2 linked regions of the Homo sapiens genome follow. The protein of the gene in region 2 interacts with the protein of the main gene of each other region in a pairwise test. Each region holds a gene or a part of one and is shown on either strand. Other genes may lie near its edges. The genes, in order: MAP3K4 and GADD45B.

Region 1 (16,189 bases), on a different chromosome or scaffold from region 2:
TAAAATTAATTACTTCAAACTATTTAATACAAATGAAAATATTCTATGTTATAAAGGACAGAATGAGTTGGGCACTTACACACCCATCACTTGACACAACTGTTTAACTTTATCTGAGCCCTGTGCTCCTTAAGAGAGCAATGGATAGGAAATCCACGTTCTGTGTTCCAAGAAATGGCTAACCTCAAAGGACCACCATGTCCTTGCATATTGTAAAATTAGCCCTCCCTCTATCTTCCTCAGTAATTCCCACGTTTTATAAAACCCTAAGTTTCTCCCTCCTCTTCAAGACATTCCTCAATAGTGAATGTTTTTCCCCACTGCAATATCCCGAATAAAATCGTCTACTTAACTGTCCACTGTATTTTTCCTTTGTTTTGATGCCAGGACTCAAGCAGGATGAAGACCTTGCCTTCAGATCCCTGTTGACTCCACCCAAGTAACAAGACCTCTGGGTTCCCCTGTGCCTTGTTTCTGGTCTGTGACCTGGGGACACAACAATGAGTACAATTCCTGGTCCTGCGCTTTGGACCTTGCTCATCTGCAGCACAGTAAGGAACTGATTTTTACTCTGAGATTTGCTTTATTTCTGTTGCTGGTTACTTTTGATTTTACAGTTTGTCAATCTCCATAAACAAATTAATGGGTTATAATAGGGATATTTTTTCTGTTAGGAAAGATGACAGAGAACCTGATTATTTTTTTCTATTTGTCTACTTTGAGCTCAAATCAGTTAGGAATTTCATGACCACCAAGAAGCAGATCTCGGGACTGGAGAATGTTACATTTGCGTATGCTTGATCCATGACTAAAATTTTAAAATTGAATATATAGGCTTTCTCTTTGTGTTCTGTGTCTGTTTGTAACTATGAAAGGCCTATACCTCTCATTATGTGAGTGTATATTCTGTATATGTTCCTACCTTTAGATGATATTCTCAAATAGGTTATAAAATCCCTTAAAGGAGAGAGCTCAATTCTGACTGGCTCGCAGATAAGTACAGCCATCCTTCAGTATCTACGAGGGATTGATTCTAGGACCTCCCTTGGAAAAACAAAATCTGGGATGCTCAACTGTCTGATATAAAATGACGATATCTGCATATAACCTATGCACATCCTTCCATATACTTTATTTCTAGATTAGTTATAATACCTAATACAACATAATTACTATGTATATGATTGTTACACTGAATTATTTAGGGAATAATAACAAGAATAAAAAAGTCTGTACGTGTTCAGCACAGAAGCAATTTTTTTTCTGAATATTTTCAATCTGCAGTTGGTTGAATCCACAGATGCAGAACCCACAGATACGAAAGGCCAGCTGTCCTTCTATAAATTGAATAGTCCTAAAATGCTCAGAAGTCAAGGAAATTGCACCTTTAATTCAATGTGAGAAAAAAGAAGACATGGATCATGGAAACTAACTCAGAAACAGTTTCAGAATTCAAATTCACACAATTTAGGTAAACCTTTAGTAACTGATACTAGTTTATATTGTTGGTTTAATAAAACAGCCATGTTGGTCGGGCACAGTGGCTCAAACCTGTAATCCCAGCACTTTGGGAGGCCAAGGTGGGGGGATCATGAGGTCAGGAATTCGAAACCAGCCTGGCCAAGATGGCAAAACCCCGTTTCTATTAAAAATACAAAAATTAGCCAGGCACGGTGGCGGGCACCTGTAATCCCAGCTACTCGGGAGGCTGAGGCAGGAGAATTGCTTGAACCTCGGAGGCAGAGGTTGCAGTGAGCCAAGATTGCACCACTGCACTCTAACCTGGGCGACAGAGCAAGACTCTGTCTCAAAAAACAAAAATAAAAAAACAGCTATGTCTTCTCTGACTTATCAGTGTGTTAAATATACGCACAGATTTTTATTCTACTTGTAATGTTCTTCCTAAACTTATACATGTTTATTAATCAAATAAGCTAACATTACTACTACTTAATGCTTAAGATTCTAAAAAAGGTAAATTTGTATTTAAACAAATTTAATCATTATCTGACAAACTTTATTTCAATAATCACATCAGCTTGAAGATAATTTCCAAGGTCTCTAGGTAATTTAAAACTTCTGATACTAAATTGACTTAATCAATGGGTATTCATTAGATACCTACACCATTCCTGAGTACTAAAACACTGATTATTAAACACAATTTAAGTCTAAAGCTGGGCACAATGGCTCACACCTCTAATCCCAGCACTTTGCGAGACCGAGGCAGGCAGATTGCTTGAGCCCAGGAGTTCGAGACCAGTCTGGGCAACGTGGAGAAACCCCATTTCTACAAAAAACTTAAAAAACTAGCCACGCATGGTGGCATGTGCCTATAGTTCCATCTACTGGGGAGGCTGAGGTGGGAGGATCACTTGAGCCCAGGAGGTCGAGGCTGCAGTGAGCCATGATGGTACCACCGCACCCCAGCCTGGACAACAGAGTGAGACCCTGTCTCAAAAAAAAAAAAAAAAAGTTTATATACTTTTGTGTCTTGAGTCCATTAATGAATGTGTTCATTTTGAATACAGAAAGTTGTAGAAGGTTCATGGAAAGGGAATTTTATTTGTCATGGTCAAGACTGGATAAGTTTGGTGGTTTTAAATAAGGTTTTTAAAAAGACCTTTAGTATCAAATGTTATACTGATACAAAACTAAAATCGTGTTTTCTCTGTTTCAACGTCAAATGTTTATCAGATTACTGGTTTGCTCTTAATAGACTGTAAAAGTTATTCTTTACTTTTCTACATTATCTGCACAAACAGCAAGATTCTCTGTTTTACTATGAAAACCTATGGTTTCTGCCAACTTATTATGTCCTTGATTATTTAAGGAACAAGTTTCTCCTTCAGGAAAGTTTCTTGACGATCATGTTACCACTTATGTTTACTTTCAAAATATTTATTGTCACTTGGGTTAAATATAAAGTCATCTATTATTTCTTGGTAACCCACGATCCTATCTTAATTGAAGTTTTCAAATCTCCTGGCAACTTTTAATATTTTACCTTACCAAAATCAAATCATAAATATCATTTGCACCTAAAACTGTCTTTGAGATTTCCCAGATGGTGGTCCCCGAAACAATCACAAAGATTTGTTCTTTCACCTTTTAAAAAAAGAAGTGCTAGAAAATAATTAGGTTTATCTGTCATGTTGTTATTGATGAGTTGTCAAGTCAGAAGAAATGCTTAGCCTTCTCTAGGTTAAATGTGTATAGGTAAAATGTTGTAAATATTTCAGACTCTGCTTGCTATAGAAGTTAACAGAAAATTGTCAGTGCTCTCACTGACAATGATACACTGCTATTTATCAGAGTCCTGGTGCTACTTTGTTCGATATTAGACAACACAGCATTATGGGTCATAATTTCAGCTTTGTTTTTAAATGTTGACTTGGTCCCAACTTAATTTGAATCTAGTATCTTCCAGGCCAGTGGTTTTCAACTGGATATTCACATTACTTACCTATGATGTTTCATTAATAAGCACAGATAGATGTTCAGGACATATTCCGGACTTACAGAATCTCTTTCTCTGATATTCTTGGTATATTTTAACTATATGCTTGGTATATTGTTGGCATATATCAGAACTATCATATGTTATATCTAAACTTCTTTTTCTCAGTAATTATATTTATATACTTTTATTTCCCAGTAAAGATTAACTCTTATTTTCAAGAAAGAGTGGATATTCCATCTAATTTATAAAAATGGAATAGCCACTCTTTCTTGAAAATAGAATCCTTATGTTTATATGAATATTTTGTTTAAAAAAATTTTGGAATGACTTTAATCTTGTCTTGTACAACAAAGAAACAACCAAATATCCTTATTAATTGCTTTATTCTTATAATGAAATCTCATTGGATCTTTCACTTTTGAAAATTATAGTAATAAGTTAACCACAGCCACTTTAAGTTATTTTGTCATTTACAGATAGGTTTTCGTTCTACCTTGCTGCTTCCCTGACAGCACTTACAATCAGCTACAGGCCACAGTGCCTGTCTTCAACAAAGAAGAGCTGTCTTGGGACCCAAGGAAAAGGACTATGCCAGGTACCTTGCAGTACAGTCTTCTGATGTAATGTTTAAACAACTTTGAGAAGATACCAGTGGACTGACTCAGGATTTCTAGAACTCTAATCAAGAAGAAGATAAATTCATGAGACTGCTAACTAAAGATCAAGTGGAAAAAGAATTACACAGGACTGAATGAACTAATCAAGGATGACCGTGGATTCTGTTGAGAATATTGTTGCTGTTATTAATGTTTTATTTTCTGAATATATAAGGAGCCCTTTCCTCTTAAGCGATCTATACCTCATTACAATTTAGAATATGCTTTTGTAAATAAAATTATCCAGTGCATTTTGTCTTTCACACTGGTATGAATAACTTAATACCTTTCTAGAAAGAAACATAGCAACACCTCTCAAAAGCCTTAAAACTCTAAATATCTTATGACCTAGGAAGCTATCCTAAAGAAACAATCCAAAATAGTGAAAAATTCACAAAAATATTTGTATCAAGTCACTAATTGTAAGTGGAATCATATGTCACAAACCATATGTTATATCATGTTATCAAATTCAAACTATTAAATTATGGGATATACATCTAGAGGAATACAGTTTGCCATTGTCTGTCATAGGAAAATGCTCATGATATGGCAGCTTGTAAAAATAAACTGTATAAAAAAAATACACAGAAAAGAAATATGCCGGCCGGGTGCGGGAGCTCACGCCTGTAATCCCAGCACTTTGGGAGGCTGAGGCGGGTGGATCACAAGGTCAGAAGATCGAGACCATCATGGCTAACATGGTGAAACTCCATCTCCACTAAAAATACAAAAAATTAGCCGGGCATGGTGGCAGGCGCCTGTAGTCCCAGCTACTCAGGAGGCTGAGGCAGGAGAATGGCATGAACCCAGGAGGCGGAGCTTGCAGTGACCCAAGACTGCACCACTGCACTCCAGCCTGGGTGACAGAGCGAGACTCCATCTCAAAAAAAAAAAAAAAAAAAAGCCAAAACTATTTTTAGATGGCAGAATTAGAATTGGTCATTTTCTTCTTTATATGATTCATAGTTTTCCATAATAGATACAGGTTACCTTTATAATCAGGAAAATTTCTAACTGATTAAGTTACTTTTATTAAGCGAGAAGATTTCACTCACTTTTCTCAGGCAGTAGCTAGATCAATCTAGTTTTATTACGTGAAAAGATTTCATTCATTTTTCTTAGGCAGTGGCTAGATCAATTTGAAAACTATTCCTCTTACAGTGTATAACATTTAAAAAATGAAAAGAAAATTAATCCAAGTTATAAAGACACAAGTTAAATGAACTAAAAAGAATTTCCACAGAAAAAGACAGCTGTGCCTATTAACCTAAACAATCACAATCAGTAGCGTTACAGTTCTTAATTTAGCAGCATGATTTATGATGATCCAAGGGCCAGCCAGAATTCCAAACACCTGTAGGAATAATATGCAGAATAAACCACAACTAAAGTAAGAGAGAGAATCTGGAAAAGCTAGATCCAAAAAAAAAAAAAAAAAAAAACCTTTTTCTTATTTCTATGGCTTCTGCAGACGTTGGGGGGGAAATGTTTCTTGAATGGAGATTATTGCAGCTATTTTTAAAAGTATCCAGCCTCAATGCATATTTGGTGGCTTTTTAAGAAAATCACTATAGGATTTGCCTCTTTTACCTTAAGCCCAAAAAGAGGAAGAAAGAGAAATGTAATAAAACAGCTAATACTGAGCACTTACTATAGAACAGGAATTACTTAATCTTAATAACAACCTAGGAAGATGTTATTATTTTTGCCTTTCAAATGCGGAAACAGACTGAGAGAGGCTAAATTACTTCCCCACAATCCTACTGCTAGCAATCAAAAGGTAACATTCAAAGCCTATCTACTACCAAAACCTATGCTCTGCCTCCTTCATACAAGTGTCAGCAAAGAACCTGCTGTTAGGCAACGAGCCAGGAATTAGGCAATAAAAGTAAGCAAAACAACAGACGATGCCCCAGCCCTCATGGAGTTTACTGAAGGCAAACATAATAAACAAATATGTACACAAATATATAATTACAAATGGTGGCAAACTGCAGGGGCTCTGAGGACACATAACAGAAGGATCTCATCTATTCTGGGGGGAAGCGGGGGAAATGTCAAGGTGGACCCTAAAGTAAGCAATGCTTAAGACCTAAAGTGAAACTGCTGTACCCTAACATAGATTACATATGACATATATATCATGCATATACAGAATATATAGATGTGAAATATATTGTTTGAATTATTTGATAACATTTATAACACATAGCTTGAGACATACATGATTCCACCTATAATTAATAACTTGATAAAAATATTTTTGTAAATATTTTTTGTAAATTTTTCAGTATTTGGATTTGGATTTCTTATATATGTGTACACATATATATGTATATACATATATACTTATATACACTTGTATTATATATGTGTATATAATATATATTATATATTATATACATATGTGTATATTATAATATATAATATATATTATATACATATGTGTATATTATAATATATAATATATATTATATACATATGTGTATATTATAATATATAATATATATTATATACATATGTGTATATTATATATAATATGCACTATGTGTGCATATATATGCATATTATACACTATATATGTGTGTGTACATATATGTATAGTATAATATACATATATGTATGTGTACACATGTGTATATGTGCGTACACATGTGTATGTGTGCATACACATGTGTGTATATATGGGTGTACACATGTGTGTATATATGGGTGTACACATATGTGTGTATACAGATGGGTGTACACATATATGTGTGTGTATGTGTGTGTATATATGGTGTACACATATATGTGTGTATATATATCAGGGGAAAATGAGTTCCTTTCTTTTCTTAAGGACTGCTCTATGTGAAAAATTTTAAACACAGGTTACTGTTTCAGAGAAAGATCAACAAATTACCTAAATTATTCACATAATGCCAATCCCAATTTTACTCTAAAATTAATCCTAGATTTTAAACTGATCTTTACAATTCTTGTAGTTTAAGGATAAGCAGCCAAGAGAACAACCTTGAGAGACAAGCATAGATACATTCTTACTCTTGCCTTCGGGTAACAATGCTGTCTTCAAGAAGTAAGTATTGCCGAGCTTCTTCAAAATTCCATTTGATCATTTAGTAGACAAATAGTGTACTTGTTCTCCTGACTCAGTCTCAAGGGACAAGGTACAAAGTATAACAGCATCCATTTTATTTTGGGTAGAGCTATGCTTTTAAAACTGAGGGTCACAACCTATTTGTGGGTAATAAAATCAATTTAGTAGGTTATGATGAACAATTTTTAATAGAACAGAATAAGAATTATTTGAGTATCATATATTGCAAGGTCAAATACTGTTTCAAAATTGTTTTCTTTTGGTTATAAGGCACACACACACTGTCATAAAATATATTTCTTACTGTAGGTCACGACCATAAACACAGTTTCAAAACCACTACTACAGACCAGAAGTTAGAATCTTACTGTCTTCTTGATGTACAGACCGACGCCTGAAAATAACAACGTATCTGAAAATTTCTGAGCATTGGCTCTTCTTTATTCTGCGAGCAAGAAATAAAAGTTTCACGGGGGAAAAACGTTGTGGATGATGAGTTTTAAGAGGATTTCATATTTTCTATTTGCATTTTTTTCTAAAAACAAATCTTTCATCTCGTTTGATCCTGTTGAGTCCAATTCATCCAGAAAATACAGCATTTCACGGTTGCCAAGTAACTGTGCACATGGGCTTAAGCTGGGCTATGTATGGCAGGTGGCTGGAGAACACCTTGGCTTTGGACCTTGACCAGGGGAGCACATGGCGATGCGAGGGTAAGGGAAGAAGGGCTTGCAGATCTGGAGCCTAAGCTGTCAGCTGGGAAAGCTGCAGCCCCTCTAGGCCATTTTTCTCATCTCTAAAACGAGACGCACAGCCCAAATGATCTTATAAGAGCTCAACTCTTGTAATTCTATAAGCAATGGCTAGGAAGTTGGATGAAATGAACACTAAGCGTCCTACCATCTGTAAGAACTTGTATTAGCAAATGTTTAAATCCTTATCTGAGTAAGAACTAAATACTTAACAGATACAACTAACTAACTCCAAAAATTGTGTGAGAAAACCAAGTTATATCTACATTTTTATGTTCCCATATAAAAAGACTTTAGGATTTTAAATAAAATAAATGTACTATCGTCCAAAAGTTCCCCACTGAAACACTAAAAAGGTTGACAATTTCTATTAATTTGACAACTCTAAACTAGCTGTCCTCTAACAAGCCCTATTCAGAAAGTTCTACATTTCAGCAGTATCTTCAAATAGCCTGCTCACACACAAAAAAGCTTCCACTGAAAACATCAAATCTGATCAGCTTTAAAGCTTAGTATCTACTTTTCTCCACAGAAGGCTTATTTTGTCTGAAATGAAATCCATGTATGAAATGCTTTTGATAGACTGCCTAATATATTCTTAATAGCTTTCCCTGCTAATTTATAAACACGTGGCATCCATATGACCCATGAAACCAATACTGCTGAGGTAGGTCTGCAAATTGCAAAACATGAACGTTCTTGTAATTCAAAAACAAAACTTCATGTTGCCTGCTAGTGAATAAATATTTAAAGGCAAAGGCACTCGATTACACAGTGTGAGATCTGCAGGGGTCTAAAAATGCACCTACCATACTCACTGCCAGTGGAATAATGTATCTTTTAAAATATAGACATTTCAAGTACACCGCTTAAAATGGGGAAAGCATTTAAACACAATATACATGTTGAGAACACAGTTCTAGATTTTAAATATTTCTATTAATGTAAAAGACCACCCTAATGTAAGTCCTGTGTTTGTTTTGTTACTGTTGGAGTTGTTTCTAATCTACATACTCTATTACCCAAGCTGAAGTAAATAGTTTTTTAAAAGCAGCTTGCTACAGCCAGCTCAGATAAGCCAGCTCAGATACCAAAAATAAATAAAATCATTTAAAATTTGGCAACAATATTCTCTTTATATCACATGGACTCTCATCAATTTCAATTTTAGTAACAATTCAACGTAAAGAAACTTAAAATTATAAATGAGCTAGTTAAGAATTTAGGCTCTCTGATTAGCTTTTTATTTTAAAATAAAATGTGTAACACGTTCATCATAAAAAGTTTTAGGAAAAATTAGTATGTATTTTTTATATCTTTTTTCTATGCACATACTTTTTAAAATGCGATCACACTGAGTATTAGGGTTTTAAGAAGTTTAACTCAAATTAATAGTTTAAGCACAAATAGAGATTAGCTCACATCAAATCAGGAGAAAAATAGGGACAAATCTAGCACAAAAGGGCAACTGGCTGACAGTGTGGTGGTGCGCACCTGTAGTACCACCTACTTGGGAGGCCAAGGCAAAAGAATTCTTTGAGACCAGAAGTTTGAATCCAGCCTGGGTAACATACAGAGACTGCCATCTCTTTATTTATTTTTATTTATTTATTTATTTTAAAGGCAACTGGCCATAGACCTCTTTCAGCCTCTCTGCTTTTCTCTGGGGATTAACATCACTCTCTGAGACCAGGTCCTCTGTAGGAGCTTCAGGAAGCTAGCTCTAGGCTCATGAATTCTCAGCCTATACTTCAGTAAAATGCGCGTTTCTCTCTCCCAGCTCCAATTTGAAAAATCCCAGGAAAGAATCCTAATTGGCCTGGACTGGGTCAAGTGTCATGCCTATGGCCTGGCATCTGTAAGAAGAGGGCAGCTCCAATATGTACCATGTAGTTTGAGTCAAGAGAGGAATTCCCCCAAATAAGGTAGAAGGAAGACAGTGAAGTAGGGCAGACACAGCCGGTGGACAAATATGTGTATGAGATGAAAAACTACCTCAAATTTTGGCTCCCATCTTCTGCAAATTCTGTTTCATAGTCTGTTTGTTCTTGCTGAACACAGCGGTGAGTATGTATACATCAGAAATACTTGAGAATCTTCTTAAGAAGAGCTACTCAGGTACCACCCCAAAAGGAGTTGTATCATGAGCATCTTCACATGTCACTAAACACTATTTAAAAACAGTTTTTAATAACTGGATAGAATTCTGATGTGGTTCTGATTTTTTAAAATTTAATTTTATGACTTAAATCCAGAAAAGCCAGATACCATCATGATCCTTTTTGAACACAATATTCAAAAAGAATTTTATGAAAGCACCAACCACTGACATCTTTGCCACATTGTTCTGAGAAACTATGCTAAAGGATTCTTGGCGAGGGGTGGTGGGACAGAGATTATGGGGAGAATACTGGGTGGGGGATGGAGACAATAAGGTGATCCTCTGAGACTCACCATTAGTAAAAATGTACCGTACCACTGAGGTTTAAAAAAAGAAATCTTAAAGTGAGAAGGATAAAATATACTCCCAAATTAAAGCAGGAAAAGCAAGGTTTGTTATAAAGACTGAAGATTAAAACAAACATACTATAACCCAAACAATTTAGGAAAGTTTGTGACACAAGGGAAAAAAGCAGCCTGTGTGATGCCTAGAAAATAAAAACCTAAGAGTAAGTCTGGATCACACTGCCTCTCATTCAGAAGCAGGGGTGCACCTGCTAGGGATGCAAGCCCACCTCACTGGTCTGCTAACATGAGTCACCGGGATCATTCAACTCATTTCCCTTGCTAATATCATGCTTACTAATCAATCTCTTAATTATACTTTGGCTTTCTACAAGCAAGAGAATACACTGACTAACCAGGTGTACAGACAAAGCTGAGTATCTGTGCCTGAGAAGCCAAGCACAGTGAGTGTCTGGGCCTTGATTATCGTGCCAAGGGAGTGCCAGCTTATGAAGACCTACGGAGTCTTCAGCTAATCTCCTTCTCTCACGTTTTCCATTTTCTCTTTAAAGAAACCACTACCAGTAGCCTACTGATAGGCAACGTTAAAGAGTCTTCAAACAGCATACATACTACCTGGTCAAATGACAAGGCTGAGACAATAGAATGCTATGAGTAAAATCATAGTCATGAGGAATGAGGAATTATTAAATAACAGGAAGTTATTACAACAAATGTATCCAGTGAGCAGGCAAGACCTTTATATCCCCGTATTTCAGCAGAGCTCAGAACAAGATTTGCAGGACACCATGAGAGCATACATGAAGGAAACAGAGTGGCCTCTAACAATGACAGAAAATTAAAGGGAACTACAAAGTCCTCCTAAGTGACAAGTCCCCAGTTGAAAACATGAAGTTTCTGCCATCACTGCTGTTTGGTGACTCCTCTCTGCCTAACGCCACCCCCGCCAATGGCATCTACTGTTACAGTGGTGTAAAGGCATGACCATCACTGATGCTACACCAACAGTCTGGAGCACCACAGGAGGCTGACTTTGCCAGGGAGAACAGTTGACATACAAGGTCAAGACTGAAACACACAGGCTCAAGGTGGACATTCAAGCCGAGAGGCAGAGCAAATTGCCTAGGAGTGACGACATTCAACTAGTTTTTTAGTAGGAAATCCAGTTTTTCAAATGAATTTACAATAAATATATAAAGTAAATAATTCATTTTTTAAAAAAAGTTAATTGTTAAATTTATGCAGCATGTACTCATAAGGACAATGAGAACAATGAGGCTATTTTTAATATAAATATTTTAAATGAAAGGTTATAGTAAACAAGAGCATTATATCAGCCTTAATATCCAATTTATTCTGTGTTTTAGGTGTACAGATCCAATAAGTCACAAAGGTAAATTGTTCCAAATTAGTTTTAATAGCTCTCCTAGTCACCTCAGGATCCTCCTAAAACTGCCCCAGAAGCTTGAAAAAGAAATGATAAGCAATGTTTATTTCAAAATTTAATCACTAACAATAACAACAGCTATCCTTATCATGAATTCTTTATCAAAAATAAGGACAAAAGTATCCACAACTGACAGCAAGCAATAAAACTGGAATAGAGTACTATGACCTCTCTGCCTGTTTTGTGTTGCTGGGTCACTGCATAACACTCTTGGGTCAGGAGGAAAGCACACACTAGGCAGATGTGCTGGGCTGGCTGCACCTGCCACGATGGCACACTTGCTGCACAGCTTTGGAGGCCAACATGTACAGGCCTGAATTCTACAAAAGGCCTGTGCATTAACACAACCTTCCTAATCAATGACACACAGACATAAAGTATGTGACAAAGATGGCAAACAGAGTTTTATTCTAGTCTGTGGCAAAACCAGTTAACCTGGTAGCATAAATTATCACATTATTGGTTTCCAATGTATTAAAAGGTGGCATTTCACACATTTTCAACAAACATAAGAAAAAATGCTCAACATCACTAATTATCAGGGAAATGCAAATTAAAACCACAATGAGATACCACCTTACTCCTGCAAGAATGGCCATAATTTAAAAATAATAATTAAAAAAATAGACAATGGCATGGATGTGGTGAGAAGGGAACTCTTATACACTGCTGGTGGGAATGTAAACTAGTACAACTACTGTGGAAAACAATATGGAGATTCCTTAAAAAACTGGCCAGGCGCAGTGGCTCACGCCTGTAATCCCAACACTTTGGGAGGCCAAGATGGGCGGATCACGAGGTCAGGAGTTCAAGACAAGCCTGACCAACTTGGTGAAACCTTGTCTCTACTAAAAATACAAAAATGAGCTGGACCTGGTGGCAGGCACCTATAATCCCAGCTACCCGGGAGGCTGAGGCAGGAGAATTGCTCGAACTCGGGAGGCAGAGGTTGCAGCGAGCTGAGATCACGCCACTGCACTCCAGCCTGGGCAACAGAGAAAGACTCTGTCTCAAAAAAAACTAAAAAAACCTAAAAACTAAAAGTAGAACTACCATTTGATCCAGCAATCCCACTACTGAGTATCTACCCAAAGGAAAACAACTAATCATATGAAAAAGACACATGTACACACGTTTATAGCAGCAATTCGCAATTCACAACTGCAAAAATATGGAACCAACCTAAATGCCCATCAACCAATGAGTGGATAAAGAAAATGTGGCATATATACACCATGGACTACTACTCAGCCATGAAACAACGAAATAATGGCAACTGCAGCAACTTGGATGGAGCTGGAGGCCATTACTCTAAGTGAAGTCACTCAGGAATGGAAAACCAAACATCGTATTCACTTATAAGTGAGAGCTAAGCTAGGAGGATGCAAAGGCGTAAGAATGATATAATGGACTTTGAAGACTCGGGGGAAGGCTCAGAGCGGGGTGAGGAATAGACTACATATTTGGTACAGTGTACATTGCTTGGGTGACAGGTGCACCAAAATCTTAGAAATCACCACTACAGAACTTATCCATGTAACCAAAAAACACCTGTACCCCAAAAACTATTGAAAATAAAATAAAAAAGAAAATTGTAAAAAAAAAAAAGAGGTGGCATTTCACACATTTTGAACACGTACACTGAGCTCCTCTAAAATGGTTAAAAAAAAAAGTTCAAATGAACAACTGGATAGACCCCCTACATCTTTTACCAAAGATCTACAGTAATTCTGTCAGAGGTCAGTTCTATGTATTGAAGAGCAGGTGGTGACAACGAGGACATAAAAAAGAGAAAACAACAGCTTTGTCAAGTAATCTGTTTTACAGATTTTTCTATTGTAAAATTAACTGCAATGTTGCTAAGAAAAATATTGAGATCTTCTTGTTCCGTACACTGCTGTTCACTTACAGTTGGATGAAACCCATTATCCTGACCTATTTTTATTATAACACAGACAGAAGCCTGACTGAAAAGTCAAGTTTTTTTTTTTTTTTACCACTGAAGCAGCAGTCATTTTTGCAGCACATTTTCATTTCTCTGCCCTTCTCGCTTTTACCTAAGAATGCTCATGTCCATTTCTTTCCGGAGTAGGGTTATACAGAATTCTAATTTCTGATCCGCCCATTTGGATAATGAATTCTTCATGGTGGTTAAAGACATGGGCTGTGCAGCCAGACCTTTCTTCATTACCAGCTGTGAAACCCTGGACAAGATACTTAAACTGTGTGCCTCAGTTTCCTCATCTGTCAAAAAGAGAGTATAACAGGACCTACCTCATAGAGTTGTTGAAAAGATTAAATGGGTTAATAGAAATAAAGACAATGGCCTATTTTAACCGTTAAGTGTTCACTATTAATTTTAAAGAAAAAGGTATCAAAATTGCTCGAAAACTGATCCGTTAACAAATTTATAATAAACTTTCTGACAAAATTTCTAAAAATACTAGATGTATTCAAAAGGAACCAAAGGAATTCTCATTACACCCTGTACCATTATTCAGAGAAGTTGTTCCTTAGAAGTACCCAGAACTATCTCAGAATTAAAAGAGGCAACTAATTTCTTCACAGCTTATAAAAATAAAACAAATTTGTTTGGGCCAACTGAATGATGACAAGCAAGAATATGGCTCCTGTGTTCAGTTCTAACTACAGTTACAGGTGTGAATTTTCTTTAAGCAGGAAAAAGAGGACACTTTACTGCCTTATTCCTAGAACCATAGAGCAAGACCATAAGATGCCAAGAGGAGCTGCCGAGGTATTTTCATTACAGGGGACAGGGGGCAGCAGTTTGCAAGTTTACTCTGGGATGCAAAGGACAGGGAGTAAGAGGACATTTGAACATACAAACATAGGCACGTAAAAAGAGGGAAATTCTCAGTTATGGTGAGTTTGTTCTCTCAATTAAAAAAAAAATAAAGACATAAAAATAAGTTAATAGAGTATGGAAGAAAAAGCAACAAATGCTTTGGTTACCGAAGTTCCACCTTAGAGCTTCCTGCAGTAGCAAAGTTTTAGACAAATGAATCCTTACTTTTGTGCACGTGTGAGCAACAATCTGCACAATACTAGCACTAAAGGACAGTAAGGGGCCCTCAGAACAGGAAAGCAACGTATCTGTCTGCATAGTCTAAGTGCAATTTCTCACGGAAGAGATGACAGGCATTCTCTGGAGCGGGCAAAAGGAGAGGAGGAGGAGAACGCGGGGAAATAGCCAGTACGCACTCGATTTCCGAATGTCTCTTTTACTCGAATGAGGGCAGAGGGGAGGGACCACTTTCGTTCAGTAATGATGAGAGGCACTTCAGTGAGGCCACTCTTCCGAAGCTAGCGGCAGGGGAGGCAGCCGCACTCTGCTCCCAGCCCCCGCAACGTTGAGGGTGAGCTGGGGGAGTCTACAAGGGAAGGGGAGCCGGCAACACGCTCGAGCGGAACCCTGCGGAGCTGCAACCCCGGGAGGAGTCGCCGGACAGACTCAGACGCGGTCCCCTGGGACCCAGGGATGCACCGCGCCCCTCCCGCCCCAGCCTGCAGAGACTGGATGCTTCCCTCCCCACCTGGCGGGAAGCAGAGGCCCTCGGGCCCGACCGAGTTCGGGCCAGGACCCGCCCCGCTTTCTGCGAGCGACCGACTGCGGCCGCCACACTCACCTCGCCGCCAAGCAGCACTCGGGTTCTGACTCGGTCTCGGGTTCCGGTGGCGGTGGTGGCGGCGGCGGCGGTGGCGGCGGCTCCTCCATGGCGGCGGCAGGCGTGACGGCAAAGGCGGGAGGAGGGACCAGCGCGGCAGCGGCTTCTCTCATCCGTGCACGGAGCCCCGCATGGCCGCGGCGGGCAGTAAGCTGCAGCCTGGCGCGGGGCACCGGAGCCCCGAAGTGCGGGAGTGACTCGACTCCGCCTCCGCCTCTACCCCGCCGCAGGAGCCGTGCGCGCCGCGGCCATCTTGGAAACGGCGACCGGCCGAGCGCCGGGGCTACGGTGGGCGGCGAGGGACAAGCCTCCCAGATCGGCGGCGGTGGCGGCGGCGGCGGCGGGCGCCGGAATGCGACCGGACGGGGGCGGAGACGGCGGCAGGGAGGGGCGGGGAGCGCCGTCAAGTGTCGGCGCGATTCGGTCCTGGAGCCGGGTCTCGCCAGCTCGCCCGGTGTCGCCCCGGCCGGTGGCAGTGGGGGACTGTGGAGCGGAGCCGGGCTGTGCAGCGGGCTGGGAGCTCGAGGCTTCCCAGGCGGTCGTCGGTCTGGGAGGGACGCTGGGTAGGGCCGATGAGCGGGGCGGGCGCGACGCTATGAGCCCGGCCGGAGTCGCCGCC
Region 2 (15,984 bases):
TCTACCTGGCCAGGACCCAGCACCTGGCAGATCAACGTGTGTCCCTTAGGGCCGAAACTGTCTGTGCTGGAGCATGGACACAGAAGGTCATCAGCAGTTCAACCTCTCATCATACAGACTTGACTGAGTCTTTATGCCATAAGCATTTATGAAGTGCCGCCTGTGTCCCAGGTTCTGGGCTAGCCACTAGGGATCTGGGGGTGAGAAAAACAGACCTTCTCCCCTCCCTCTGGGAGTCTGCAGCTTCACGCAGAAGATAGACAAGAAGCAAATAACAGGATTATAAATATGTCATTACAAATGGGTGCAGGGGCTGGGCAGAGCAAGACTCTGTCTCAAAAAACAAACAAACAAATAAATGGTGCAAGTACCAAGAAGGGCAGGTGGGCAGAGATAGTACAGAGGTCATTCCAGGTCTTGTTTGGAGGGCTTCCTGGAGGAGGTGGCATCTGAGATGTGAGCAAAAGGAGAGTAGGTGTTAACTAGGAGAAAGGTAGGGAAGAGTGTTCTGGCCAGAGGCATCAGCACAGGCCCTGGTTGGATGTTAGAGAGCCAGGTGTATAAACAACATGTGGGTTGAGGATTTGCATGTGCAAGGCCCACACATAGTGGCTGGTCACTAAATACGAATTGTGTGTGTGACTCTGAGTGCCTTCCCAGGGATGGCCGTCCACACGTGAGGGTGCTAGTATACTGCTGGGATTCCCAGGCACATGTTCTGGGGAGCAGAGGCACAGGGCAGGCCACACAAGTTCAAATCTTTTGTGTTTTGAGGCAGGGTCTCACTCTGTTGCCCAGGCTGGAGTGCAGTGGTGTGATCACAGCTCACTGCAGCTCCAGCCTCCCAGGCTTAAGCAATCCTCCCACCTTAGCCTCCCCAGTAGCTAAGATTACAGGCATGCACCACCACACCTGGCTTAATTTTTGTTTTTGTTTTTGTTTTTTTTTAGAAACGAGGTCTTGCCATGTTGCCCAGGCTGGTCTCGAACTCCTGGGCTCAAGCAATCCTCCTGCCTCAGTTTTCCAAAGTACTGGGATTACAGGCCTCCGCCACTGCATCCAGTATGTTCAAACTTTGATACCGATACATACAACATCATGGATGAGCCCCCAAAACAGTGTGCAAGCAAAAGAAGCCAGACACAAAAGGTTGCACATTTTATGATTTCATTTATATGAAATGTCCAGAACAGGTGAATTCATGGAAAAAATGTGGAGTAGCGGTTGTCAGGGGTTGGGGGAGGGGGCGTGAAGAGTGACTGCTAATGGTGACAGGGCTTCTTTTGGGGGTGATGAAAATATTCTGGAATTCAATAGTGGTGATGGTTGCACAATTTTGTGAATATACTAAAAACCACTTAGTTAAAGACTTTAAAGGGGTGAATTTATGGTATATGAACTATATCTCAATAATATATATCATTATATTTATATATAGTGTGTATACGTACTATATATGTGTACATATATACAGTATATATACTGTGTATGTGTGTGTACATGTGTGCATGTCTGTGTATGTGTGTGTACGTGTGTGTGCGTGTGTGTGCATGTGTGTGTGTGCATGCGTGTGTGCATGTGTGTGTGTGTGTGTGCATGCGTGTGTCTGAAAAAACAGTACTTTGAGCCACGCTGGCCTTGGTTTGGTTCCTGGCTCTGCCATTGTACCTTGTGACTTTGGACAAGTCACTGCACCTATCTGAACTCCACATTCTCTTTCTATAAAAAGCAGATAGTGGCTGGGCGTGTGGCTCCCACCATTTTGGGAGGCCAAGGCAGGAGGATCACTGGAGCCCAGCAGGTTGAGGCTGCAGCGAGCTATGACCACATCACTGCACTTCAGCCTGGATGACAGAGGGAGACACTGTCTCAAAAAACAACAATGGCTGGGCGTGGTGGCACACGTCTGTAACCCCAGCTACTCAGGAGGCTGAGGTGGGAGGATCGTTTGAGCTGAGGAGGCAGAGGTTACAGTGAGCCAAGATCGCAGCACTGCATTCCAGCCTGGACAACTGAGTGAGACCCTGTCTCAAAGGAAAAAAAATTAAAAAATAAGGCCGAGTGAAGTGGTTCACACCTGTAATCCCAGAACTTTGGGAGGCTGAGGCAGGTGGATCATCTGAGAGATGGAGTCTCTCTCTCTCACCCAGGCTGGAGTGCAGTGGCACAATCTCAGCTCACTGCAACCTCCACCTCCTGGGTTCAAGCGATTCTTCTGTCTCAGCCTCCCAAGTAGTTGGGATTACAGACATCCACCACCACGCCTGGCTAATTTTTTTGTATTTTTAGTAGAGACAGGGTTGCACCATGTTGGCCAGGCTGGTCTCAAACTCCTGACCTCAGATGATCCACCCTCCTTGGCCTCCCAAAGTACTGGGGTTACAGGTGTGAGCCACCACACCCGGCCATGGGAGGCATTTCTATGGACTCATGTGTCCTCTTGCAGGCGACTCTGTGTCCGTGGCATGCAGTATGTGTGTGCGTGCGTGTGAACATGTCCATGTCTCCAGCTGTGAATATGACTGCATAGCGGGGTGTGAGCGTGTGTATGCGTTTCAGCCTGTGAGTGTAGGTTCAGACACAGGCCATCGTGGGCACCCTGGGGTGAGCACGCACCCAACTTCACGAGTCCGGCCTGGGAAGCGTGTCTGCCTGCAACCTGCGGTGGGCACTGCCAACTCTTCCACTCACCGTCGTCCAAGGAATACACACATGTATCCTGGCATCCAGTCCTGAGTGTGGGAGCCCAGAACGGCCCGTGCCAGCTGACTGAGGCTTGGTGCCCTGTGACTACTCCTTCCTGACCCAGCGTGAACTTGAAGGGGTCTGGGGAGCTGGGGGTGTTGCATCCCCCGGGTCCTCTCAACCCAGAGTTTTCCCCAGAGACTGACCAGCCAGACACCGACAATTCAAGACTCCTAGCCAGGCTGTGGCTCCTCCATTCTGAGCCTCAGTCTCTTCTTTGGGAAGATGGGACAACAGCATCTTCCTCACGGGGCCACAGTAAGTTTATAGGTGTTTACAGTTGAGTCCCAGAGAAGACTGAATCAACCTAGCTGCTATTATTAATTCAATGAAACAGCATCCTTCAAAGCCAGTTCCTGTACTTCCCTGGCTTCGGTCAGGGAGACCGTGGAATACTTTCATAAATGACAACAACAATAACAACTGCAAGAGTACTAACAATAGGAGAGGGCCGGGCGCGGTGGCTCCCGCCTGTAATCCCAACACTGTGGGAGGCCGTGGCTGGAGGATCACTTAAGGCCAGGAATTTGAGACCAGACTGGGTAATATAGTGAGACCCTATTTCTTTTCTTTTTTTTCTTTTTTTTGAGATGGAGTCTCTCTCTGTCGCCCAGGCTGGAGTGCAGTGGCGCAATCTCAGCTCACTGCAAGCTCCGCCTCCCGGGTTCACGCCATTCTCCTGCCTCAGCCTCCCGAGTAGCTGGGACTACAGGTGCACGCCACCACACCCAGCTAACTTTCGTATTTTTAGTAGAGACAGGGTTTCACCCTCTTGGCCAGGCTGGTCTCGAACTCTTGACCTCACATGATCCGCCCACCTCGGCCTCCCACAGTCCTGGGATTACAGGCGTGAGCCACTGCGCCCAGCCTTCCACATCTTTTGTGGGGAAGACAATTCAAACCATAACAGGCATAAGCCACCACGCCCAGCTAAATCTAAAATTTTTAAATGAATGATCTTTTAAAAATTGGGGAAAAAAAACCATGATTCTGGAAGTACATTGAAGGAAGCCGGTCAAGGAATCTATATTTCAGGGTCTGTTGTTTGTTTGTTTGTTTGTTTTGAGACAGGGTCTCACTCTGTCACCCAGGCTGGAGTGTGGTGGTGCCATCACAGCTCACTGCAGCCTCAATCTTCAGGGCTCAAGTGCTCCTCCCGCCTCAGGCTCCCAAGTAGCTGGGACCACAGGCCCACACCACCATGCCCAGCTAATTTTTAAATTTTTTTGTAGAGATCTGGATCTCTCTATGTTTGCCCATGCTGGTCTCAAACTCCTGGGTTCAGGGATTCCTCCCCACCTCCCCCAAGCCTCCCAAAGTCTTGGGATTACAGAGAGTGAGCCACAGGGCCGGCCCAGGAATCTATATATCATTTAACCTCCTCAACAATCTATGAGCTAGGTAGCATTATCCCCCATTTTTCAGAGGGAGAAACTGAGGCACAGACAGGTGAAGGTCCTGGCTGAGGGTCCCACCACTGGGGCCCCTCCATGCCCTGTCTCCACTTGGGGCTCAGGAGCCTGAGATCCTGCTGCACAGTTCTAGAGACCGAGGAGCAAGAATGGAACAATCCGGATGGAGACAGACCATCCGATCCCCGGGGGCATAGCCCTCCGAGCTGGCCTCGCCTCCCTACCCTACGAGGTTGACCAACGAAGAGCCAGAGACTGGGAGCGGTGGCTCAGACCTGTAATCTCAGCATTTTGCAGGCCAAGTCGGGCGTGAGGTCAGGAGTTTGAGACCAGTCTGGCCAACATGGTGAAACCCCATCTCTACTAAAAATACAAAAACTAGTGGGTGTGGTAGTGGGTCCTTGTGGTCCCAGCTACTCAGGAGAATCGCTTGAACCCAGGAGGTGGAGGCTGCAGGGAGGCGAGATCGTGCCACTGCACTCCAGCCTGGGCGATGGAGTGAGACTGTCTCAAAAGAAAGAAAAAGAAAAGCCAGAGCTTTTCCAGGCCGCCGCTAGGCGCACCCTTGCCCCACCTGGTCCTTCCCCACCTGGAGCCCCCTTGGGTTTTGGCCCCACATGTTCTCCCGCACCCCAATCCCTCAAGAGCCCCTCGCCCTCTGTCACTCTTCCCAGGTGCCCTCCCCTCTTGGGCTCCATCTCAGGGATCCCCACTCCATCACCCCCTACCCCCTCGGGGCTCCCGCCTCTTCGCCTCCATTCTCCCCTCCCCCAACCCCTTCGGGACTCCTACCTGTCTACCCCCCTCCCGGGGTTTCCCTGTTGGTTCAGGGCTGTGGGGGATTCCCCTTCCCCTTCTTGGGCTCCCCTCTCCCCACTTCAGTTCTCCCCTCCTCCTAGCCCCAGGCGGGATCCTCTCCCCTCCCCGCTTCTCCCTCTGGGACTTCCCCCTCCTTCTCTCTCTCCCTCCCCCGTCGGGGCTCCCCCGATCCCCGTGACTCCTAGGGAGCCGCTGGGGTTTTCCTCATGCGCCCACGTGAGGCTCCGTGGAAAGGTCGCGGCCTGCGGGCAGGACCACCCCACCCCCTCCCCACTCCCCCCTAGTTCCCAGGCTTGGGGGCTGCAGGGCAGAGGGGAACCGAGGTCGTCCCGGCGCCTGGCCAGGGCGGGCCCACTCTGCAGACCCGGGGCGGGAAGACTGAGGCCGGGCACGGAAGGGCTGGGCCACGCTCCCAGCCCGGGGCAGGGGGAGTCACCACCGCGCCTGCAACTTTGGGAGAAGTAGGAGGTGGCTGGCCAGGGCTCGCAGTTTCGGTTTACAGGCAAAACGCAGCACTGCGCCAAGCCCGGCTGGCCCGGAGGCCGACTTCCTGGGGTATTTTTCTGCTTGTTGATTTTAGTTTGCGGAAATAAAAAAAGTTTTTTTCTTTAGTGCAAAAGAGAGGCCTATCCTGGGATGGAGAAGGCTGTGGTGGGCTGGGGGGGCACTCCCTGGGGAAGCCTCCAAAAGCGCTCTTCCTTGCAAGCCCTGAGCTCACCTCGCTGTGTGGTACCAGGTGCCCCCTTGACCGATCCGGACCTTGGGCTGCGGTGGCCGCCTAGGCGGTCAGGGGCTGCAGCCAGCACCCCCTCCCGCTGAAATGCCTCCATATGTGCCCAGAGCTTGGGGTTGGCTCCTGCACAGCCAGTAACAGTGGTGGCACGGCGGCCAGGTTTCGTAATAAACCGGTCTCTTAATTGCTGCAGGGTAGGAGGAGAAGGAAAAAAAAAAAGAGGCATAGATTTGTTGGAGTCGGTGGCGGCGCCTGCTGCGGAGAGAAGGGGTACTGTTTCTGCACGGGAGCCTGGAGCTGCTAACAGGGGCTTAAGTAACACTTCCTGGTGAGCTGGCGGGGGTTGTGGGGGGTGAAGCGTGTCCCCGGGGAGGGGGCAGGGGTCCTAGTTGTTCTAGAAGCCGAAAACATACAAGCAACCAGAGGCTTTAGAAATTTATTACAAGGCCCTCATAGTAGAAATAAAAATATAGATATCTATGCTTCCCATCTCGCTCTCAGTGGTTCGAATAACAAGTGCAAGTAACAAAATAGATTGTCTCTATAATTCGCAAACTGGGAGTTCATGGGTACAGAGCAACTTCAGCCCCAGCTCCCAAGTCCCAAAGTGTGGTCTTGTCGAGGGTGCAGACAAGGACCAACCAAGTTCAACCAAGTCTCTCGTATGCAGACGCCAGCTCCAGTCTCAAGGAGGGTGGGGCTTGCAGTCAGTCTCACTCCACCCCCGAGTGGACAGTCTGGACCCTCCGTGATGGGGAAGGCGGCAGCGTGCCCCGCCACTCCGGCTTCTGCTCCATCCCAAGGCCTCAGCTTCGGGGGTCCTGTCTCCTGCTGGCCTGGGTCCCCCCTTCTCCATCGGATCGGCGGCCGCCAGCTCCTGGATCTCCGCCCTGGGGGCGGCCGCTCACTCCCCTTCTCCTCCTCCTCTTCCTCTTCAGTCTCCAACGACTCTGCCCCCGATGGTCCTCGTGGGTTGGGTTGTTTTGGGGGGGTTGTGCTGGGGGGGAGGGGGTTCAAATATTTATTGTATTTTTTGTTTGTGGCAGCAACTCAACAGATTCTGCTGCTGGGAAGGGCCTCAGCGTTCCTGAAGAGAGATGTAGGGGACCCACTGGTTGTTGCCCCGGCTTTCTTCGCAGTAGCTGGCCACCTCCACCAAGCCGTGGCTCTTCCAGGCGTCCGTGTGAGGGTTCTGTAGGAGGGAAAAGAAGGGGTTTAGTGGAGCCTCCCTCTCCCGGGGCCCCTGTGTGGGGAAAACAGTCAGGCTCAAAATAGCTTCCTGGGTGAGGAGGCCCCAGCCCGGCTGCCCACGGGACATGCCAAACGTGGCTGAGCGCTGAGCTGTGCAGGACCAGTCAGCCCGACTTTGTTGACAAACACCGGCCCAGGTGCCCGGGCGTGGCGGGGCAGGGCAGAGGCCCGACTCACCGTGACCAGGAGACAATGCAGGTCTCGGGCCTCGGTGGTGCCCTGGGTCTCGGCCGGCTCTCCCAGGAGCTGCGCCAGGCGCTGCATGCCCGACACCCGCACGATGTTGATGTCGTTGTCACAGCAGAAGGACTGGATGAGCGTGAAGTGGATTTGCAGGGCGATGTCATCCTCCTCCTCCTCGTCAATGGCCAAGAGGCAGAGGACCACGCTGTCTGGGTCCCTGAGGGGGCCAAAGGGTAGGGATGGGTCAGCCGGGGACAGGGGAGGGGCCACCGTGCAGGGGGAGTTTGCAAAAAAGGAGCGTGCAAGAGCAAAAGAGAAACTGCAAGGGTGCAGGGGATTGCCTCTGCAAGCTGGTGACGGTGGGGGGAGGGGAGGGCACACGGTTCAAAGTATGGGGTAGGGGGAGACAGGCCCACGGCGGGAGGGGTGTTTGCAGACGATACATCAGGATACGGCAGCCCCCGATCCACAAAACGGCAGAGAAGCTCTGCATCCACAGCGGGGGGCACTTGGGGAAGTCCCAGCTCCATGCAAGACAAGCGTGCGGAAAGCGTCCAGAGCGGAGGGGAGGTCCCGTCCCACCCGCGCCCAGCCCGGGAAGGGGGTCTGACTCACACATTCATCAACTTGGCCGACTCGTACACCCCCACTGTGAGGCGATCCTGGCGCTGAGCGGCCACCAAAAGCTCCTCCACCGCGGCGGTCACCGTCTGCATCCTGAGACCAGGAAAGAGGGATCAGTGACGGGCGGACCACCGGGTGCTACGTTCCGCTCCCGGCCCGGCCCAACCCGACCCATCCCGTCCCGGCTGACCTCAGGCGGCGGCAGCCCCGGCTACTTACTTCTGCGCCGCGTTGTCGCACGCCACGAGCTCTTCCAGCGTCATGTTGCAATTATAATCCACAGTGGATGCGGCTCCACGGCAGTCCCCAGGGAGAAATTGCAAAATCCGAGCCAGAGAGCCCAAAACCTTCCCACAGAGCTAGAGCGCTCGTCCAAGACCTTCGGGAAGCAGCGAAATCCTTCCAGAAAAGGCGGAAAAATATATTGCAAAGTCCTTGGCGAGGATAATCCAGGAAGTTGCGGAAACCAACGGTAGTCCGACGCTTCGGCGATCTGAGCTGGGAGCCTCCGGCACCGACTTTTATAGACTTGAACATTGGGCGTGGCCTCAGTGGAGTCATTCGCCCCTCCTATTGGTGGAAAGACAAGGGCGAGTGCAGCTAGCTCTGCGGTTGGCCGACGGAGGGGAGGGGGAGGAGCGGCGTGCGGGGGCGCCCCACGTGGGGGCGAGAACCGGGAGGAGGGCGCGCGGGGGCCGGGTAGGTGACCGCGAATGCCAGAAAAGAAAAAAAAGCAGAAGTTTTTTTCTCCTGATTTCCCGGCAGCCGAGCCGCGGTTCGGGGCGCGCGCGGGATTTCCAGCGCGCGAGGCGGCCCGGACTTTCGGGGGGGCCTGGAATCCCCTCCCGATCCGCGGAGAGTCCCGGACCGCGCCTTTCCCAAGTTCTGCTGGGGGTGGAGGGGCTGCACCGGGAAGGGGCCCCGTTTGCAGCGTGATCTCGCCCAGGTGGTGGTGAGGGCCGGAGTCTCTCCTGGCTGCGACGACCCCAGCCCCTGGGTGATTTCGCTTCTCCCGGCCTCTCTGTTCCCGTCTGAGTAATGGGTCTGCAGCGCCGGCCTCGCTGGTTTGCAGAGCATGGCATAAAATACGGCTGACAGTAAGAGCCCAATACACATCAGCTGTCACCTGGTGGTCGCGGGAGGCCTCCTCGAGGGCCCCGAAAGTGGGAGGTTGCAAAGCCCGGGGCGCTCTGGAGAAGAAAGTGGGCGCCTCCTCGCCGACCCCGCGAGTATCAGGGTGGGGTGCGCGTGGGAGGTGCAGGTGGCGCGGCCCCGCCCCCGCCGGCTGCCTGGCGTTCCAGCCTTTGCCCGTGCGGAGGCCTCCAGGCCCTGGAGAAAGCCATTGTTGAGGGGAATGGTGCAGGCTCCGGCTGCACGCCGCCACCCAGGGCCCACGTGCAAGGATGACGGCTACTTTTATTTCTCACTCCGGGGTGGGCGCTGACCTGCATTGAGTGCGTGGTGCGGACCTGGTACCCCCCACCCCTCCGGATTCATGGATGATTTAATCCAAGACCTGGGAAGCAGGGGGGATGCTTATGTGCATTATGCAAAAGGGGAAACTGAGGCTTGGTGAGGCCATAGGCTAGTTCGTGTTGGAGCCACGCGTGTGCGCCAGGCACGGCCGCCTGCAGGACTCCGCCGCCCCGGGAAGGCTGTTCAGGAGCGAGGCTGGCAGGCCCCGCATGACAACGTCTCCCACGGTCGACTGGGGGCTCCCGGGTGACTCACATCTGAGTCCCCTCCCCCGCCAGCCTGGGGTCTGGCCTCCGCCCGGCGGCTCACTTTCCCCAGTTGCCCGGCTCCCCGGCCCGCGGGTCCGGCTGACGCATCCCACCTCCTCCGCGCCGCCCACCGCTGGGGCACGAAATGTCCCGGGGCTGCGAGGCGCGGTGGCGCCATCTGGTGGCCGCGCCGAGTTTCTGCGCCCTCAGCGCCGGAAGAGAGGGACGGACGGGCGGGGCACTGGGCTGGAGGCGGGGGATAAGGGGACCGTGGCGGTTGCAACGTTTTATGTAACTTTATGCAATGTTTTACGCATGCAACATACATATTTATATTTTATAATTTCAATTTAAAAGTTAAATCGGCCGGGCGCGGTGGCTTACGCCTGTAATCCCAGCACTTTGGGAGTCCGAGGCGGGCGGATCAACTGAGGTCAGGAGTTCGAGACCAACCTGACCAACATGGCCAACATGAGCTGAAGATAAGGAAGATCAGGGAGGTGGGTGGGATAAGTGCAAAGTCAGATTCTGTCTTTATTTACAATTTTGATATTTTGTTCCTCATGGATACTTGGGCATTGATTTTGATTTTTAAAAAGTATTGCAGGCTGGGTAATCCCAGCACATTAGGAGGCTGAGGCGGGCAGATCGTGAGGTCAGTTCGAGACCAGCCTGACCAACATGGTGAAACCCTGTCTCTACTAAAAACACAAAAATTAGCTGGGCGTGGTGGCACGCGCCTGTAATCCCAGCTTACTCAGGAGGCTGAGGCAGGAGTATCACTTGAACCCAGGAGGTGGAGGTTGCAGTGAGCCGAGATCATGCCACTGCACATGGCATGGTGACAGAGAGAGACTCCATCCTCCCCAAAACAAACAAACAAACAAACAAACAAACAAAAAGGCCGGGCACGGTAGCTCACTCCTGTAATCCCAGCACTTGGGGAGTCTGAGGCAGGAGGATCACCTGAGGCTGGGAATTCAAGACCAGCCTGACCAACCTGGAGAAACCCCATCTCTACTAAAAATACAAAATCAGTCGGGCGTGGTGGCACATGCCTGTAATCCCAGCTACTCTGGGGGCTGAGGCAGGAGAATTGCTTGAACTTGGGAGGCAGAGGTTGCAGTAAGCCGAGATTGCAGTGAGCCGAGATCGTGCCACTGCACTCCAGCCTGAGTGACAGAGTGAGACTCAGTCTTTAAAAAAAAAAAAAAGAAAGAAAGAATGGGGTGTGTTGTGTGCACCCAGCTACTCCGGAGGCTGAGACAGGAGGATCACTTGAGCCCAGGGGTTCCTGGCTGCAGTGAGCCGGGATTGCACAGTTGCATTCCAGCCTGGGCAACAGAGTGAGACCCCGTCTCAAATAAATAAATAAAATAAGGGCTGGGCACGGTGGCTCATGCCTGTAATCCCAGCACTTTGGGAGGCTGAGGCAGGTGGATCATCTGGGGTCAGGAGTTCAAAACCAACCTGGCCAACATGGTGAAACCCCGTCTCTACAAAAAATACAAAAATTACCTGGGCATGGTGGCACATGCCTATAATCCCAGCTACTCGGGAGGCTGAGGCAGGAGAATCGCTTGAACCCGGGAGGTGGAGGTTGCAGTGAGCCGAGATTGCACCACTGCATTCCAGCCTGGGAGACAGAGCGAGACACTGTGTCAAAAATAAAGCAAATAAAATAAATAAAATAAGGCGAGCAAAGCAGGGCCTCAGAGAATATGTGTCCAAGTCCTTCTTCCGTGTGTCCCCCGTGCCAGCCATAACAACCTCCTCTGCGAGAGGCCCAGCCTTTGTCAGCTGTTTCCTCCGCCTGGGATGCTGTCTTCCTCTGGTCTTCAGCAGGAAAACCCTACTCCTCTGTCAACACTGACTTGGCCTTGTTTTCTCCCAGACTGACTGCCTGGACCCCCATGGTCCTCCACCCTCCAGGCTTCTCTTTCTAGACCCCAAGCCCACCTGTGCCTCCTTTTTCCAGCCCTGGCTCCAGGCATCTTAGAATATCTGGAGTATCTTGGAATATCTTCAAGAGACTCTGAGCTCTGTGCCTTTGAGCTCAGAAAATGAGCTCCAGCCGGGCCAGGCGTGGTGGCTCATGCCTGTAATCCCAGCATGTTGGGAGGCCGAGGCGGGTGGATCACCCGAGGTCAGGAGTTCAAGACCAGCCTGGCCAGCATGGTGAAACTCCATCTCTACTAAAAATATAAAAATTAGCCAGGCATGGTGGCGCATGCCTGTAGTCCCAGCTACTCAGGAGGCTGAGGCAGGAGAATCGCTTGAACTCGGGAGGTGGAGGTTGCAATGAGCCGAGATCGTGCCACTGCACTCCAGCCTGGACAACAAGAGTGAGACTCTTTCTCAAAAAAAAAAAAAAAAAGAAAATGAGCTCCAGCCTCAGTTTCTTTCTCTGTAAGATGGGAACAGTCACACAAAGGCTTCATCACAGGCATTGAAGGAGGAAATTCCCAGAATCAGGTAAGCACTCAGGAAATGTGTGCTATTATCTTTGGGCTGGGCGCCAGAACTCACCTCTGTAATCCCAGCACTTTTGGAGGCCGAGGCAGGAGGATTGCTTGAGCCCAGGAGTTTGAGACCAGCCTGGGCAACATAGGGAGACCCCATCTCTACAAAAATTTTAAAAATTAGCCGACCGTGGTGGTGCGCACCTGTAGTCCCAGCTACGTGAGAGGCTGAGGTGGGAGGATCACTTGAGCCTGGGAGTTTGAGGCTGCAGTGAGCTATGATTGTGTCGCTGCACTCCAGCCTGGGCAACAGAGGGAGACCCTGTGTCTAAAAATAAAATAAAATAAAAAATGAGATCAATAACAGTGTCGCCGAGGCCATCTTGGAGCCTGAGGTGAGAGGAATAATCAGTATGAGTAATCCTGTCATAATCTTTTTTTTTTTTTTTTTTTTTAGACAGAATCTCGCTCTGTCACCCAGACTGGAGTGCAGTGGCGCAATCTCAGCTCACTGCAACCTCCACCTCCTGGGTTCAAGTGACTCTCCTGCCTCAGCTTCTCAAGTAGCTAGGACTACAGGCGCCCTCCACCACACCTAGCTAATTTTTTGTATTTTTAGTAGAGACAGGGTTTTGCCATGTTGGCCAGGCTGATCTCGAACTCCTGACCTCAAATGATCTGCCTGCCTCGGCCTCCCAAAGTGTTGGAATTACAGGCGTGAGTCACCGTATTTGGCTTTAAACAAAATAAATTTTTAAAATTTTATCCAGCATAGAGGTTTTTGCATTCATTCAGAGTTAAAAAAAAAATGTGGCCGGGTGTGGTGGCTCACGCCTGTAATCCCAGCACTTTGGGAGGCTGAGGTGGGCAGATCACGAGGTCAGGAGATCGAGACCATCCCAGCTAACACAGTGAAACCCTGTCTCTACTAAAAATACAAAAAATTAGCCGGGCGTGGTGGCGGGCGCCTGTAGTGCCAGCTACTCAGGAGGCTGAGGCAGGAGAATGGTGTGAACCCAGGAGGTGGAGCTTGCAGTGAACCGAGATCGCGCTACTGCACTCCAGCCTGGGTGACAGAGCAAGACTCCATCTCAAAAAAATAAGTAAATAAAAATAAAAAATAAAAAAACGTACTGCAGGCTGGGCACGGTGTTGCGGGGGGGCTTTGAAGTGATTAGGGTCAGATGAGCTCATGAGAGTGGAGTCTTCTAATGAGATTAGTTCCTTTCTCTTTTTCTTTTTTGAGACAAGGTCTCCCTGTATTGCCCAGGCTGGAGTGCAGTGGTGTGATCATGACTTCGTGCAGCCTCTGTCTCTAAGGGTAGACTCATGCCTGTAATCTCAGCCCCTTGGGGGCCAAGTGGGGAGGATCGCTTGAGCTCAGGAGTTCGAGACCAGCCTGGGCAACCTGGCAAGACTCCCATCTCTACAAATAATTTTTTTTTTGAGACGGAGTCTCGCTCTGTCACCCAGGCTCTGTCACCCAGGAGTGCAGTGGTGTGATCTCGGCTACTGCAAGCTCCGCCTCCCAGGTTCACGCCATTCTCCTGCCTCAGCCTCCAGAGTAGCTGGGACTACAGGCGCCCGCCACCTCGCCCGGCTAATTGTTTGTATTTTTAGTAGAGATGGGGTTTCACCGTGTTAGCCAGGATGGTCTCGATCTCCTGACCTCGTGATCCGCCCACCTCGGCCTCCCAAAATGCTGGGATTACAGGTGTTACCCACCACGCCTGGCCTTTTTTTTTTTTTTTTTTTTTGAGACGAAGTCTCTCTCTGTCTCCCAGGCTGGAGTGCAGTGGCACAATCTCAGCTCACTGCAACCTCTGCCTCCCGAGTTCAAGTGATTCTTCTGCCTCAGCCTCCCAAGTAGCTGGGATTACACTGCGCCCGGCTAATTTTTAGTAGAGATGGGGTTTCACATCTTGGCCAGGTTGGTTTCGTACTCCTGACCTCATGATCCACCCGCCTCGAGTTCCCAAAGTGCTGGGATTACAGGTGTGAGCTACCGCACGCAGCCACAAATAATTTTTTAAAAATTAGCCAGGTCTGATGGGCACACCTGTAGTCCCAACTACTCGGGAGGCTAAAGCAGGAGGATCACTTGAGCCCAGGAGTTTGAGGCTGCAGTGAGCTATGATCGCACCACTGCACTCCAGCCTGGGCGACAAAACAAGGCCCTGCCTCAAAAAGAAAAAAAAAAGTGGGGGCGGGCTGGGTGCAGTGGCTCATGCCTGTGATCCCAGCACTTTGGAAGGCCAAGGAGGGCAGATCACTTGAGGTCAGGAGTTCGAGACTAGCCCGGACAACATGGCGAAACCCCGTCTCTACTAAAAATACAAAAAGTTGGCCAGGCGTGGTGGCAGATGCCTGTAATCCCAGCTACTCAGGAGGCCGAGTCAGGAGACTCACTTGAGCCTGGGAGGTAGACATTGCAGTGAGCCGAGATCATGCCACTGCACCCCACCTGGACAACAGAGCAGGACTCTGTCTCAAAAAAAAAAAACGGTAAAAAGTCAGGTTCAAGGGGCTCTGGGGGCAGAGGTCCCAGGCAGCAGGCACAGTGTTTGAAAAGGCCCTGACGCAGGACCTCACCTGTTGCATTTGAGGAATCCCAAGGAGGCCCTGGGGGTGGAACAGAGTAAGCAAGAGGGAGAGCCGGGAAGATGAGCTCACAGAGACGGGCTTTGGGGGCTGCGGGGAGGGGTCTGCGTGTCACTCCGGATGTAGCCAGGAAGTGATTGGCAGCGGCTGGGCTCTGACATCATGTTTTTCTGCAAAGATGAACAAAACGAGCAAGACATGACTCCTGTCCCCAAGGAGAGGTTTCGGGATGGAGCTGAGTCATCATTTGAACTTGCAGACATTTGTAAGACAGGCCTGGGGTGGGAGGAGGTGGGATCACCACGCCAGGTGGCAGCGGAGGCTACGGCGAAGGCTGAGGCACATTTGGGAAATTCTGAGGACAGTGGCAGGGGAGGGGCAGGGAAACTGTGCACAGCAAGAGGCTGGCAGGTCTGGGACTATGCCTCGCAGAGAGAGGGAGAAGGAGAGGCTCTGTCTGAGGTCACGTTTGCCTGGTTCAAATCCCACCTGCAGCCGTCATCAGCTGTGTGTCCTTGGGTTGGTGGCTTAGCCTCCCTGAAACTCCCTCTTTTCATGGGAAAAGTCAGGTTGTGGAAATGTTTACCCAAAACAAGGACCTAGAATGGGCTTGGCATAGAAAGTGCTCCGTACACCTCCCCTACTGTAGTGACCTCGAAAGCCACTCGAATGCCGGACGCGGTGACTCACACCTGTAATCCCAACACTTTGGGAGGCCAAGGCGAATGGATCACTTGAGGTCAGGAGTTCGAGACCAGCCTGGCCCACATGGTGAAACCCCCTCTCTCCTAAAAATGCAAAAATTAGCTGGGTGTGGCGGAAGGCGCCTGTAATCCCAGCTACTCCGAGAGGCTGAGGCACGAGAATCGCTTGAACCCGGGAGACGGAGCTTGCAGTGAGCTGAGATCGCACCACTGCACTCCAGCCTGGGAGACAGAGTGAGACTCTGACTCTGTCTCAAAAAAAAAAAAAAAACAGAACGGTATATCCATCAGGCAGGACATTCCTGGGGCCTAAGAGTCACCTCCCAGTGGCTGAAACAAAAGCCAGATCTCTCTCTGGTCGAGGCAAAATTTCTTGCTACACAATGGACAGGAATCATTCGCCTTGCACTGAGTATTTTACAACTTACACACTTGCTCACAGACATCGGAACAGCTGGAACCCCCGGCAGCAGGCATTGCAGACAATGCTAGCATGGTGGGCAGCTTCGGGCCTGGCTCCAGTGATCCCCCAGGGTGGTTAATTTTTTTTTTTTTTTTTTTCTTAGAGATGGGCTTCGCTCTATTGCCCAGGCTTGAATGCAGTGACATCGCAGCTCACTGCAGCCTTGAACTCCTGACTTAAGGAATCTTCCCATCTCAGCCTCCCAAATAGCTGGGATTGCAGGCATGGGCCACCACACCCCGCTATGCAGGGGTTCTTCCTGC

What was found.
Region 1: the proteins of GADD45B (region 2) and MAP3K4 interact in binary tests that used the Homo sapiens proteins (3 or more experiments, as listed by UniProt).

What each region holds. Positions count from the first base shown.
Region 1 is NC_000006.12:160,991,426-161,007,614, reverse strand, and holds the start of MAP3K4 (mitogen-activated protein kinase kinase kinase 4), read right to left. Parts: upstream 15,847-16,189; 5' UTR 15,684-15,846; coding exon 15,532-15,683; exon of another isoform or gene 15,273-15,531; intron 1-15,272. UniProt on the Homo sapiens protein: Component of a protein kinase signal transduction cascade. Activates the CSBP2, P38 and JNK MAPK pathways, but not the ERK pathway. Specifically phosphorylates and activates MAP2K4 and MAP2K6.
Region 2 is NC_000019.10:2,468,405-2,484,388, reverse strand, and holds GADD45B (growth arrest and DNA damage-inducible protein GADD45 beta), read right to left. Parts: upstream 8,263-15,984; 5' UTR 8,031-8,262; coding exon 7,987-8,030; intron 7,861-7,986; coding exon 7,759-7,860; intron 7,361-7,758; coding exon 7,138-7,360; intron 6,902-7,137; coding exon 6,788-6,901; 3' UTR 6,132-6,787; downstream 1-6,131.